Linked DNA regions of Homo sapiens. Each later gene encodes a partner of the first gene's protein in a complex. Each region holds a gene or a part of one and is shown in the gene's direction. Other genes may lie near its edges.

The links. Proteins that work in one complex are often made in the same cells at the same time.
Region 2: the proteins of CAPN2 (region 1) and CAPNS1 are in contact, whole or in part, in a crystal structure (PDB 1KFU), measured with the Homo sapiens proteins. Residues at the interface, in NP_001739.3 of Homo sapiens: Ala2, Gly3, Ile4, Ala5, Lys7, Leu8, Ala9, Arg12, Glu13, Glu16, Phe60, Arg366, Arg416, Arg417, Arg418, Arg420, Asp494, Ile516, Phe551, Glu575, Lys578, Val581, Asp582, Asp585, Gly588, Ser589, Gly590, Gln641 (codon at 293), Leu642 (codon at 296), Gln644 (codon at 302); in NP_001003962.1 of Homo sapiens: Thr85, His86, Ser88, Asp111, Asp112, Met113, Glu114, Ser116, Thr118, Asp142, Arg145, Ser146, Ala149, Val150, Met151, Asp152, Ser153, Asp154, Thr155, Thr156, Gly157, Gly160, Phe161, Glu163, Asn206, His208, Leu209, Met212, Ile213, Arg215.

Annotation. Positions count from the first base shown.
Region 1 is NC_000001.11:223,771,534-223,776,536, forward strand, and holds the end of CAPN2 (calpain-2 catalytic subunit), read left to right. Parts: intron 1-275; coding exon 276-392; intron 393-647; coding exon 648-706; intron 707-1,177; exon of another isoform or gene 1,178-1,553; intron 1,554-2,734; exon of another isoform or gene 2,735-3,300; coding exon 3,301-3,324; 3' UTR 3,325-4,485; downstream 4,486-5,003. UniProt on the Homo sapiens protein: Calcium-regulated non-lysosomal thiol-protease which catalyzes limited proteolysis of substrates involved in cytoskeletal remodeling and signal transduction. Proteolytically cleaves MYOC at 'Arg-226'.
Region 2 is NC_000019.10:36,135,452-36,143,088, forward strand, and holds the start of CAPNS1 (calpain small subunit 1), read left to right. Parts: upstream 1-4,614; 5' UTR 4,615-4,706; exon of another isoform or gene 4,707-4,814; intron 4,815-5,538; exon of another isoform or gene 5,539-5,545; 5' UTR 5,546-5,560; coding exon 5,561-5,769; exon of another isoform or gene 5,770-6,113; intron 6,114-6,174; exon of another isoform or gene 6,175-6,227; coding exon of another isoform or gene 6,228-6,232; intron 6,233-6,848; coding exon 6,849-6,882; intron 6,883-7,200; coding exon 7,201-7,290; intron 7,291-7,457; coding exon 7,458-7,515; intron 7,516-7,612; coding exon 7,613-7,637. UniProt on the Homo sapiens protein: Regulatory subunit of the calcium-regulated non-lysosomal thiol-protease which catalyzes limited proteolysis of substrates involved in cytoskeletal remodeling and signal transduction. Essential for embryonic development.

The DNA of each region.
Region 1 (5,003 bases):
TGAAGCAACTGTGACCATGAGAACAGAAACAGGCAAGAAAACACTTATGTGTCAGCAAAGGACACAGGCAGGGTGAAGGTGGACAGTTCAAAAACAAAAGAAACAGCAGAAGGTACTGGCTTTGCAAAATCAAACCAGTCTCACAGAAGAGCAGCCAAGGGACAAAAGCAATTATACCTCATTTAAATCACCACATTAGTTTCATAGCCTGTGAGCGCAGCTAAATGGAACAATCTAATGCTTAGCAATGAGTTTGTTTGTTCATGTAACTTCAGGTTTCAAGATGCCCTGTCAACTCCACCAAGTCATCGTTGCTCGGTTTGCAGATGACCAGCTCATCATCGATTTTGATAATTTTGTTCGGTGTTTGGTTCGGCTGGAAACGCTATTCAGTAAGTGGATATTTGGGGAATGACTCATTTCAGTTCTCTTGGTATTAAAGTGGCCTGCCTTTCACCTCGGTGAAATCATCTAAACTAGAGACATGTCTTCCAGGAGTTGAGAATGAAATTCCCTCTTTACTAATTTGAGGGTGAGGAAGAAAGCATGTATGGTGGTCAGTGAAGTCAGTTGCTGAACTGAAAAGAGGATAATGTGATCTGTTTCAGCTCACTCACTTGTGACACCCTCTTTTTCTCCCTCCACAGAGATATTTAAGCAGCTGGATCCCGAGAATACTGGAACAATAGAGCTCGACCTTATCTCTGTGAGTCAGCAGGCCCCGCCTTGCTTCTAAGGGGATGGGGGAGGCATGGGGCGGAAAGGGCTGTTACTTGAGTGATCTGCTTTTTCAAGTTTTGCTTTAAAGAGCTCTTGGTCTGTCGGGGCCAGGCCTGTAACCGGTTGTAAGATCCCACAATGCACTTTTACTTGCAGTTGTTTTCCAACCACCTATTCTCAAGTCCAAAATGCACGCCTGGCTCCCTCTTCTCATGAGCTTTGACTTGAGTGTAGCTCAAGGTTAAACTAAGGAGTGGCTGCAGGATCATGCTTAGAAAAATGAACTCCTGATTAGCATGCAAGGGAGAACATGTTTATATAAAGAAATCCTTCAGCTGAAATTCAAGTTGGGTTTTGGGAAGATCCATCATTCTTAGAGTGGATCTACTTAAAATACTTTAAGCAAATTAGTTTTCTCTACTCCCTCCCCGTTTAAGATAAAACCAATACTAGTAAATACGTTTGCCATTTATTATTGTTATTGCACTCATGTGTCTGGAACCCTAGCAATACACATCTCTGAAATGATCATCAATCTGAATTAAGTGGGTATGCTAATTTCACAAAAAGCAAAGCGTAAAATGTTCTCGTGTCATCCCAATGACAGGAAGTTCTCTCACTGAAAGAAAGAAGCCAGGTGGGGTATACTTCCATTATCACCTGGCTCCAGTCAGCATTTCCTCTATACTCAGGGAAGGCCACAGAGGGCCGGGCGAAGTGGCTGACACTGGGTGAGAATGGCAGTTGTCAGTCCTGTCCGTGTAACAGAGGAGTGAAGTGGTGAGGAGGGCAGGTCTAAGGCACTGGCAGCTCTTTTCCATGGATTTTGAACTCTGGAGGAAGGCAGCAACTAAATAACTGTCTCATTCTGCTATTATGCATTGTATTAGCAAAGTGAAAATATAGTCTATCTGGTTACAAATAACACTAACTTGCTTAAAACTTTACATATCCTAGGAAATATCTCTACCCCTAGATTGCAATGTAGAGTCAACCCCATCTCTAAAAAAATAAAAAATTAGGCTGGCCGCAGTGGTTCATGCCTGTAATCCCATCACTTTGGGAGGCCAAGGCAGGTGGATCACCTGAGGTCAGGAGCTCAAGACCAGCCTGGCCAACATGGTGAAACCGCGTCTCTACTGAAAATACAAAAATTAGGGCTGGGCGCGGTGGCTCACATCTATAATCCTAGCACTTTGGGAGGCCAAGGCGGGCGAATCACCTGAGGTTGGGAGTTCGAGACCAGCCTGAGTAACATGGAGAAACCCCATCTCTACTAAAAATACAAAATTAGCCAGGCGTGGTGACACATGCCTGTTAATCCCAGCTACTCGGGAGGCTGAAGCGAAAGGATTGCTTGAACCCGGGAGGCGGAGGTTGCGGCGAGCTGAGATTGCACCATTGTACTCCATCCAGCCTGGGCAACAAGAGCAAAACTGCATCTAAAAAAAAAATTAGCTGGGCGTGGTGGCAGGTGCCTGTAAATACGTTACTCTGGAGGCTGAGGCAGGAGAATCACATGAACCTAGGAGGTAGAGGTTGCAGTGAACTGAGATGGTGCCACTGCACTCCAGCCTAGGCAACAAGAGCAAAACCCTGTCTCAGAAAAAAATAAATAAAAAATAAAAAAATGAGCCAGGCATGGTGGTGCGTGCCTGTAGACCCAGCTACCCAGGAGGCTAAGGTGGGAGGAACACCTGAGCCCAGAAGTCAAGGCCGCAGTGAGCCATGATCTCCCCACTACATTCCATCTTGGGTGACAGAGCAAGGCCCTGTCTCAAAAAATTTAAAATGAAATAAATAGTAGAGTCAACACAACTGTGACACGAAACATGCCACATGTTAAGTTCTGGAAATCCTAGCCTGTCATTCTTGCTGGATATCCTATTCTACCCCAGCCACCCACCCCCACTCCAGGGTCCACCTGGCCTGCCTGCTCAGTCCACTCCCTCCGCATCTCCTCCGAGAAGCATCTTCTTACCCACTGGCTTTTCCTGCCACTCCTAAGCCTTACCTTTTGCAGGTTCCTGGAGATCCTCGCTTCTCGTAGTCTTTGCAAGGATGAGCCATGTTCAGAAGCTCTCCGTTCAGTCTGCAGGGATTTCAACCTTGGCTGCAGATTCCATCACATGGGGAGCTTTGCCAAAGTGCTGGTGTCCTGTCTGTATCCCAGACCAGTTGAATCAATCTGATTTAAAGTTTCCGTATCACTACAACTTAGAACCAATGCTGAACACCATTGGTTGCAGGGATATCCACATCCCAAACTAACTTCTGATGTGATACTCTGAGGCAGAGATGTGAAAATGCTAATTTCTGTTGTGTGAATTTCACTTTTCATGTGTGCAATCAACCCTGTAATATGATTCATGGCCACTTAATGCAAATCACACAGACTACTGACCTGTTAAAAGCTAGACTCTAGAAATCAGGTAAGAAAAATATGAGTTAGTGCACTGATATTGTAGCCCTCAATCAGCTTTTCCAGTACAAGTTTTTTGGAACAATCTACAGGTACTTAAATAGCCTTTAATTTTAAAAGTGGTCACTGAGCTGACTTTTTTTTTTCCTTCCTCACAGTGGCTCTGTTTCTCAGTACTTTGAAGTTATAACTAATCTGCCTGAAGACTTCTCATGATGGAAAATCAGCCAAGGACTAAGCTTCCATAGAAATACACTTTGTATCTGGACCTCAAAATTATGGGAACATTTACTTAAACGGATGATCATAGCTGAAAATAATGATACTGTCAATTTGAGATAGCAGAAGTTTCACACATCAAAGTAAAAGATTTGCATATCATTATACTAAATGCAAATGAGTCGCTTAACCCTTGACAAGGTCAAAGAAAGCTTTAAATCTGTAAATAGTATACACTTTTTACTTTTACACACTTTCCTGTTCATAGCAATATTAAATCAGGAAAAAAAAATGCAGGGAGGTATTTAACAGCTGAGCAAAAACATTGAGTCGCTCTCAAAGGACACGAGGCCCTTGGCAGGGAATATTTAAAGCAACTTCAAGTTTAAAATGCAGCTGTTGATTCTACCAAACAACAGTCCAAGATTACCATTTCCCATGAGCCAACTGGGAAACATGGTATATCATGAAGTAATCTTGTCAAGGCATCTGGAGAGTCCAGGAGAGAAGACTCACCTCTGTCGCTTGGGTTAAACAAGAGACAGGTTTTGTAGAATATTGATTGGTAATAGTAAATCGTTCTCCTTACAATCAAGTTCTTGACCCTATTCGGCCTTATACATCTGGTCTTACAAAGACCAAAGGGATCCTGCGCTTGATCAACTGAACCAGTATGCCAAAACCAGGCATCCAATTTGTAAACCAATTATGATAAAGGACAAAATAAGCTGTTTGCCACCTCAAAACTTTATGAACTTCACCACCACTAGTGTCTGTCCATGGAGTTAGAGGGGACATCACTTAGAAGTTCTTATAGAAAGGACACAAGTTTGTTTCCTGGCTTTACCTTGGGAAAATGCTAGCAACATTATAGAAATTTTGCCTTGTTGCCTTATCTTCTTCCAAATGTACTGTTAAATAAAAATAAAGGGTTACCCCATGCAATCACACCATGCCATGTTTTCCTTCCTGGAGGGCAGCCCCACAGGACGGTTTATGAGCACACAATTATAGCTTGTTTCTACTTTAACAAGGTATGCTGCCTCTGTAAATTCATGTATTCAAAGGAAAAGACACCTTGCCTATAATTAAAATGTGGAACTATAAAATTTTTTAAAATCCAATTCAGAAACTTTGATAATCTGACCATAACATAAGGGAAGCTCTAATTTCTACTGCTTGCTGATCTGCTGTTAGGCAGCACAGAGACGTATGTGCCTCTCAGGAAGTTCCCTGCTCGACCTTGGCCAGCTCCTCCTGGGGTAGGTACAAGCAAGGGAGCTGAGAAAACATGCAGATGAAGTCACTGGTCTGGTGCTTGTGGTTCTTGATGAATCATTTCCTCAAGATGACTTGAGATGATAGGCAAATGCCATCCTAATATTTCCTGAACAAGGTGAGACAATGGATTTCCCAAACTCGGCTCAAATGAGTTGAAGTTCTCTTGCTTGCTGAGTGGATTTTGAGGGCAAAGGGGAGGCTGGTGGCCATGAGAGTGCAGGAGTCCCAACCTCCTCGCATCGGTGATTTCTCTGTCCAGCTGCACAGGTGGCAGGAAAGATGTGGGAGATGTTTGGACTGACTCAAGATTGGAGGTGGGCAAGGGAAGGGTAGCTGAAGGATCAGGGGACAAGGGAATGGA
Region 2 (7,637 bases), on another chromosome or scaffold:
TGTAGGTGGAGCCAATAATATCTGCTGACAGGTTGGAGTGGGTGTGAAGGAGAGAGGTGAAGGACCACCCCGGAGTGTTTGGCCTCAGTCACTGGAAGGACAGAGCTGCCACTGACCTAGGTGGGGAAGGTAGTGAGGGAGCAGGTTCTGGAGGAAGGTCAGAAGCTCAGTTTAGGATATGTAAAGCTTAAAATGCCTCTAAGGGCCAGGTGCATTGGCTCACACCTGCAATCCCAGCACTTTGGGAGGCTGAGGCGGGTGGATCACGAGGTCAAGGGATTGGGACCATCCTGGCCAACATGGTGAAACCCCGTCTCTACTAAAAAATACAAAAATTAGCTGGGCATGGTTGCGCATGCCTGTAGTCCCAGCTACTCGGGAGGCTGAGGCAGGAGAACTGCTTGAACCTCAGAGGTGGAGGATGCAGTGAGCCGAGATCGCGCCACTGCACTCCAGCCTGGTGACAGAGCAAGACTCCGTCTCAAAAAAAGAAAAGAAAAAGAAAAAGGAAAAAAAAAGCCTCTGAGATCTTCCATCCTTTCCCATGGAAATGGTGAATATGATGCAGGATGTAGGAGCCTGGAGTTCGCAGGAGGTGTCTGGGCTGGAGATAGAAATTTGGGGGTTAGGGTTAGGGCCAGGTGCAGTGGCTCACGCCTGTAATCCTAGCACTTTGGGAGGCTGAGGTGGGAGGATCACTTGAGCTCAGAGTTCAAGACCAGCCTGGGCAACACAGTAAGACCTCATCTCTACAAATAATTAAAAAAGAAAAAAGATAAAGGAAATTTGGATGTTTGCCGGGCGTGGTAGCTTGTGCCTGTAGCAGTAGCTATTCAGGAGGTTGAGGCAGGAGGAGGATTCCTTGAGGCCGGGAGTTACAGGCTGCAGTGAGCTACATCACATCACTGCATTCCAGTCTGGGTGACAGAACCCCTGTCTCTAAGAACAACACAAAAAACTGGGCGTTGGCCGGGTGCTGTGGCTCATGCCTGTAATCCCAGCACTTTGGGAGGCCAAGGCGGGTGGATCACAAGGTCAGGAGATCGAGAACATCCTGGTTAACACGGTGAAACCCCGTCTCTACTAAAAATACAAAAAATTAGCCAGCGTGGTGGCAGGTGCCTGTAGTCCCAGCTACTCTGGAGGCTGAGGCAGGAGAATGGCGTGAACCCGGGAGGCGGAGCTTGCAGCGAGCAGAGATCGCGCCACTGCACTCCAGCCTGGGCGACAGAGTGAGACTCCATCTCGAAAGCAAAACAAAACAAAAAACTGGGCGTTGATAGCCTAGAGACAGGATTTAAGCTGTGCATGTAGGGGAGGCACCCCATGGCATGAGTGGTACAGAGAGGAGGATAGAGACCTAACACCTGGGGCTGCCGGGAATAAGGGGTTGGGGGCCAGAACTAGATGACAATATGGTTACGATTGGCAGTGAGTGCCATGAGAAAGTACAAGTCATTTTGAAAGCATATAACTGGAAGCCTCACCTAGTCTCAGGTTGGGTGGAGACAGGGAGGTCTTTCTGGAAGAGATGACTCCTGAGGTGACACCTGCAGCCTGAGTAGCTACACAATCAGGCCAGAAAAAAAAAGGCAGCAGGGGAGTTCCTGGCCGAGGGCATGAGGGCTGGCAGCAAGTGAGCCTCGGGAGAGGGCAGAGAGCTGGAGCAGTCAGTCTGGCAGGGAGGGGTGTGGTGAGAAGGGAATCTGGATTAGTCATCACCAAAAGATCTGTGCCAAGCCCGGGTTCAGATCTGGTTCTGCCACCCTCCGTGACCCTGCCTTTCAGAATCTCCATTCTCTCTCCTGCCCTGCAGACAAGGCTTGTGTAGCAGTTACCTTGGCCTGGCCCCAGCAAGGCCTCAGGAAACATCAGCTGCAACTAGTTTTGTCTGTTGTGATGTTGTTATTTGACCTATTATATTAATTATATTATTAACGCATAAGGGTAGTGGTTAAGGATACAGGCTAGGGAGAGTGACTGCTTGGGTTTAACCTCAGAGTCGGTTTACTTATCTGTAAAATGGGGATAATAAATAGCATCTATGTCACAGGGCTGTTAGGAGAACAAGGGAACTGATGGACGTCAAGCACTTGGAGGAGTGGTTGATGGTTACTTGTTTTTGTATCTTTTTTTTTTTTTTGAGACAGTTTCGCTCTTGTTGCCCAAGCTAGAGTGCAATGGCACGATCTCGAGTCACTGCAACCTCTGCCTCCCGGGTTCAAGCGATTCTCCTGCCTCAGCCTCCCGAGTAGCTGGGATTACAGGCACACGCCACCACGCCTGGCTGATTTTTTGTATTTTTAGTAGAAACAGGATTTCACCATGTTAGTCAGGGTGGTCCCAAACTCCTGACCTCAGTGATCTGCCCACCTCGGCCTCCCAAAGTGCTGGGATTACAGGCGTGAGCCACCACACCTGGCCTGTTTTTGTACTATTTAAGGAAGACTAAGAGTCTACCAGCTGAGGAATACAGCTGGCCTCGAGGCTGAGGGAACAGCATGAGCACAGACACAGAGCTAATGGGGGCATTTACAAAGCATTTATCACCAATTTATTTATTTATTTATTGGAGACGGAGTTTCACTCTTGTTGCCCAGGCTGGAGTGCAATGGTGCAATCTTGGCTCACTGAAACCTCTGCCTACTGGGTTCAAGCGATTCTCCTGTCTCAGCCTCCCGAGTAGCTGGGATTACAGGTATGCACCACCACATCCGGCTAATTTTGTATTTTTTAGTAGAGACAGGGTTTCTCCATGTTAGTCAGACTGGTCTCGAACTCCCGACCTCAGGTGATCTGCCCGCCTCAGCATCCCAAAGTCCTGGGGTTATTGGCATGAGCCACTGTGCCCAGTATTTATTTGAGACAGAGTCTCGCTCTGTCACCCAGATTGTAGTGCAGTGGCATGATCTCGGCTCACTGCAACCCCCGCCTCCTGGGCTCTGGTGATCCCCCCACCTCAGTCTCTAGAGTAGCTGGGACTAGGCGCATGCCACCACATTCAGCTAATTTCTGTATTATTTGTAGAGACAAGGTCTCACTATATTGCCCAGGCTGGAGTCAAACTCCTGGGCTCAAGAGATCCTCCTGCCTCAGCCTCCCAAAATGCAGGGAATACAGGCATGAACCACTTCACCCAGCCACCACTTAAGTTTTTTTTTTAATAATCAGTATTGCTGCAGATATCATTTAATTTTGATAGGGGGCCTAGTGGTATGGAGCAACCCATGTTCCCATTTTACAGATGAGAAAATCGCTGCTCAGGAATATCAAGCCACTCTTTTGGGGTTGTGCAGTTATTACAGGGCACAGCCAGGATTCAACTCAAGCCTAGCCAGCCTGCAGGGTAGGGGATAAGAGCCAGCCAGCCTGCCTGGGGGCCAGATTTAGCTCCCCCCGATGAGTCCTGAAAAAGTACTGGACTCCCGTGGCTCATGCCTGTAATCCTAGCACTTTGGCAGGCCGAGGCAGGTGGATCACCTAAGATCAGGAGTTTGAGACCAGCCTGGCCAACATGGTGAAACCCCGTCTCTACTAAAAATACAAAAATTAGCTGGGTGTGGTGGTGCATGCCTGTAATCCCAGCTACTCGGGAGGCTGAGGCAGGAGAATCGCTTGAACCTGGGAGGCAGAGACTGCAGTGAGCTGAGATGGCGCCACTGCACCCCAGCCTGGGCAACAGAGCAAGACGCTGTCTCAAAACAAAAAAAAAAAAAAAGAAAAGAAAAGAAAAGAAACCAGGCTATGTAAAAATATTATTGTAAAAAATTAAATTAAATCAAAAAAAGGCCGGTAGCCCATACCTGTAATCCCAGTACCTCACAGTACTTTGGGAGGCTGAGGCAGGAGGACGGCTTGAGGCCCGGAGTTCAAGAGCAGCCTGGGCAACATAGCGAGACCTCCGTCTCTATTATGTAAAAACAATAATATTTTTTAAGTAAATAAAGAAACCAGGCCGTGGCCAAAGGAATCTTCCTGTGTCTGGGGCCTTCTTTAGAGGCTAGCATACTGAGGACACTCTTTGGGCCAGTCCAGGAAGGAATGATTCTGGTGGCCCCTGACTGGGGCGGGGGCGTGGTAAGGTTCGCCTGGGAGGCGGCGCAGGCGCTGCCTGCGGTTTGACTGCCATCCGGGCTGCTGCAGGCACTGGGAAAGGCAATCCAGCCTCAATCCTCGCCACAGACACGGGCGACTGTCCCCCAGCGTGTGAGTCAAACCATACTCCAGGCCTCCAGGAGGTGTTTGTCGCGACAACACCTGCAGAGGGCCCGTGCGGAGTCCCTTAGTGAGCGGACCGAAAACCGCCACCCTGGAAGGATATTGGCATGCCCTAGGGTGAAAATTCACACTACGACACTCGGGGGGTGGGTCCCCTCCGAGTTCTCGTCCGCGGGTGCCTCCACCCAGACCTGAGGGGTGTCGGGAAGACCCCCGCCTACCGAGTCAGGGCGGGATTAAGACCTCCGGCGCTGGAAACGCGTAGGGCGGGGCCCAGACCTGGATCCAGCTAGCCGGGCGGTGTGGGGTGCGCATGCGCAATGTCCGCTTCGGCTCTAGGACCGCGCGGGCGACAGCAGGGCCGCGGTGCAGTGTCCGACCCGAGAGTTGCGGCCTGAGTCACCGGCCCCGCCCTCCGGAGCCGGACGCTGCGGGAGGCCCGGGAGCGGCAGTGGAACCGACTCCCAGAACTCCGGACGTGTGCGGCGGTAAGCGCCCGGCCCGTACCCCCTCCGCACCCCGCAACTCCGACTTTGGCGGCCCCCAGACCCGGCGAAACCGTGAAGTCTCGGCCTCAGGAGCCCCCCAGATCCATGGTCTCAGATTCGAACCCTCAGACCTGTTCGATCTCCTTTTATGCCGTCCCGGGGACCCTTCTCCACCCTCTGTCTCATGATCCAAAATACAGGCCCATAGGTTTCAGAGATACCCTGTGAATTCTTCCTTGGGGTGTCCTGAACCGCGATCGTAGATCTGTGCCCCCAGTTCCAGCGGGGAACCCCATTGTCCGGGAACCCAGAGCTCACAGCCACGATCTTAGACCCGAGCCCACAGAGCCAGAGGTGACACTGGAATCCTGCCGCTGGGAATACCTAAATTCTCAAGCCCACATTTGGGATTTCCTAAACCCCGCCCTGGGGCCCTTTAGGCCGTGGATGTTTGCTCCGCGCCCATGACCTGCCAAGGACCTCTACATTCAGGCTGGGCTCTGGATCTCACATTCTAGCGCCCAGACATGTCGGGAACGCCTTACGCCAACTTGGGGTCCCCACCAAGAGAACCCCCACCAGATCTGCACCCTCCCCTTCACGCGTGCACCCAGTCCAGGCTCCCTCAAGCCCCACGGGTGCCTTTTAGACCTGAGGAGGTTGCAAACCTGATCCCCCATACCTGCCCCACCCATCCGCGGACAACCCGCCCTCGCAAACTCAGACCCCCACCCGGAGGCTTCAGATTCCTCCCAGGTCCAGCTGCCGGAAATGCGTGTTTGAAGGGAGGGTGTGGGCTCAGGGGCGAAGCACCCACTGGTCCCCTTTTTTCCCCCCAGCAGTGAGTCGCAGCCATGTTCCTGGTTAACTCGTTCTTGAAGGGCGGCGGCGGCGGCGGCGGGGGAGGCGGGGGCCTGGGTGGGGGCCTGGGAAATGTGCTTGGAGGCCTGATCAGCGGGGCCGGGGGCGGCGGCGGCGGCGGCGGCGGCGGCGGCGGTGGTGGAGGCGGCGGTGGCGGTGGAACGGCCATGCGCATCCTAGGCGGAGTCATCAGCGCCATCAGGTAAGGCGGAGACTATCAGAGGGGCGGGGCCTGGGAATGGGAGGAGCCTCAGTGAGGCGTGGTCTGGGAGGGGCGTGGTCTAAAAATAGAATAGGATTAACCTGGAGGCTAACCTGGGTACATGAATTAGGCCGGGGAGGCCTGGTTTGAGAGTTCTGCTGTAAGGGGGTGGACCCCAGTGAGGCGGATATCAGTCATTGGGGGCGGTGCTTGATATGGGAGTAGTCTGATTGTGTGGGACCAGGACAATGTGGTCCTGAGGGGACTGATGTGGAGTTTTGGCGGGTGGGGCTTATGGGTCTGGGCTCAGCCTGCATTGGCTAACCTGGAGATGAACGTTAAAGGTGCGGAGCCAATGCGTCTGAGTGACATTTTACGGAAGGGGCTTGACTTATGAGTGTGGTCAGAGGTTTTAGGTGGGTTAATGAGGAGGTGAGCCCAGGAGGAAGCAAGACCTAATGGGGTAGGGTAAATGGCCCAGAATGGGCTGGGCTTGCTGGGAACTGGCTGGATTAATGGAGAAAAATGCCCTGGTAGGGATAGGGCAGGTTGGCTTAATTAGCCACGGCCACTTAGCAGTGATCCCTTGAAGGGGCGGGGACCAATGGCTGGGGTAGGATGTTGGGAAGACGGGCATTTAGGAAGCGGGCCATGGAGTAGGGTCTTGGGCAGATGGCACCTGAGGAGGATAAGGCCTTGGGAAGCTGGGGCAGAGCCTCTATGAAGTGAGCCCTCCAAGGGGCGGGGTCTTTTGATTCTACGTGGGATTTTTTAGGTTTAGGGTGGCCAAGATGACTGAAATCTGCCACTGGGTAGGTGTGCCTGGCAGGAGGGGAGCCTCCCAGGGGACCGGTCTCTGGGTTTCCTCGAGGGTGGGGTTGGCCTGAGGAAGGGAGAAGAGGGGCACGACCAGGGCAGTGTGGATTGGGACAGATGAGGACAAGAACAAATGAAAGGCACAGCAACCAAGTAAGGAAGATAACGGCTGGGGTCTGGAGCGTTGGGGCTGATGGTTCTGTAGTGCTGCCCGTTGGAGGCCCCGCCCCTGGCACTAACCCCTCCCCCTTATCTCTTCGCAGCGAGGCGGCTGCGCAGTACAACCCGGAGCCCCCGGTAAGCCCCCTCTGCAACCAGACCCCCTTCTCCTGCCAAGGCCTCTTCGAGGTCCCATCCCTGTTCCTGTAGAGAAGCCCCACCTTCCTCCCCTTCTTGTGAAATTCCTCTGCCAGTTCCTCCCATGCCGTGTCTGCAGCTTCGCCATGGGTCTTAGCCATGCCCCACATACGTGCACCCCATTCACTACCACCCCTCATTCTTTTCCTCATCAAGCTGCCCAGCCCACTCTGACTTCCCCACCCAGGGTACCTGGGTTTGGGGAGCCGTCCTGGCCGGGTTCCCCTCCCCCTGCTCTGAGCTCTCCTCCCTTTGCAGCCCCCACGCACACATTACTCCAACATTGAGGCCAACGAGAGTGAGGAGGTCCGGCAGTTCCGGAGACTCTTTGCCCAGCTGGCTGGAGATGTAAGTAACCTGGGGTCCCTGGCCCCGTCCTAACCGTTCCATCCCTTCCCTTGTGGCTGCCCTTGCACACACACCCTTGACCATGACAATCCCAGTGTTCCCATTCTCCATGACATTCTCAGACCCCTTTCAGTCACCCCTGACCTGCCCCTAACTTCCGCCCGCAGGACATGGAGGTCAGCGCCACAGAACTCATGAACATTCTCAATAAGGTTGTGACACGACGTAAGTGACCGGGGTTAAGGAATAGGGTAGATTCAGAGGCAGAGGGGTCAGAGAGGATTTGACCTCTGGCCTCTGACTTTCAACCTGTTACCCACAGACCCTGATCTGAAGACTGATGGTTT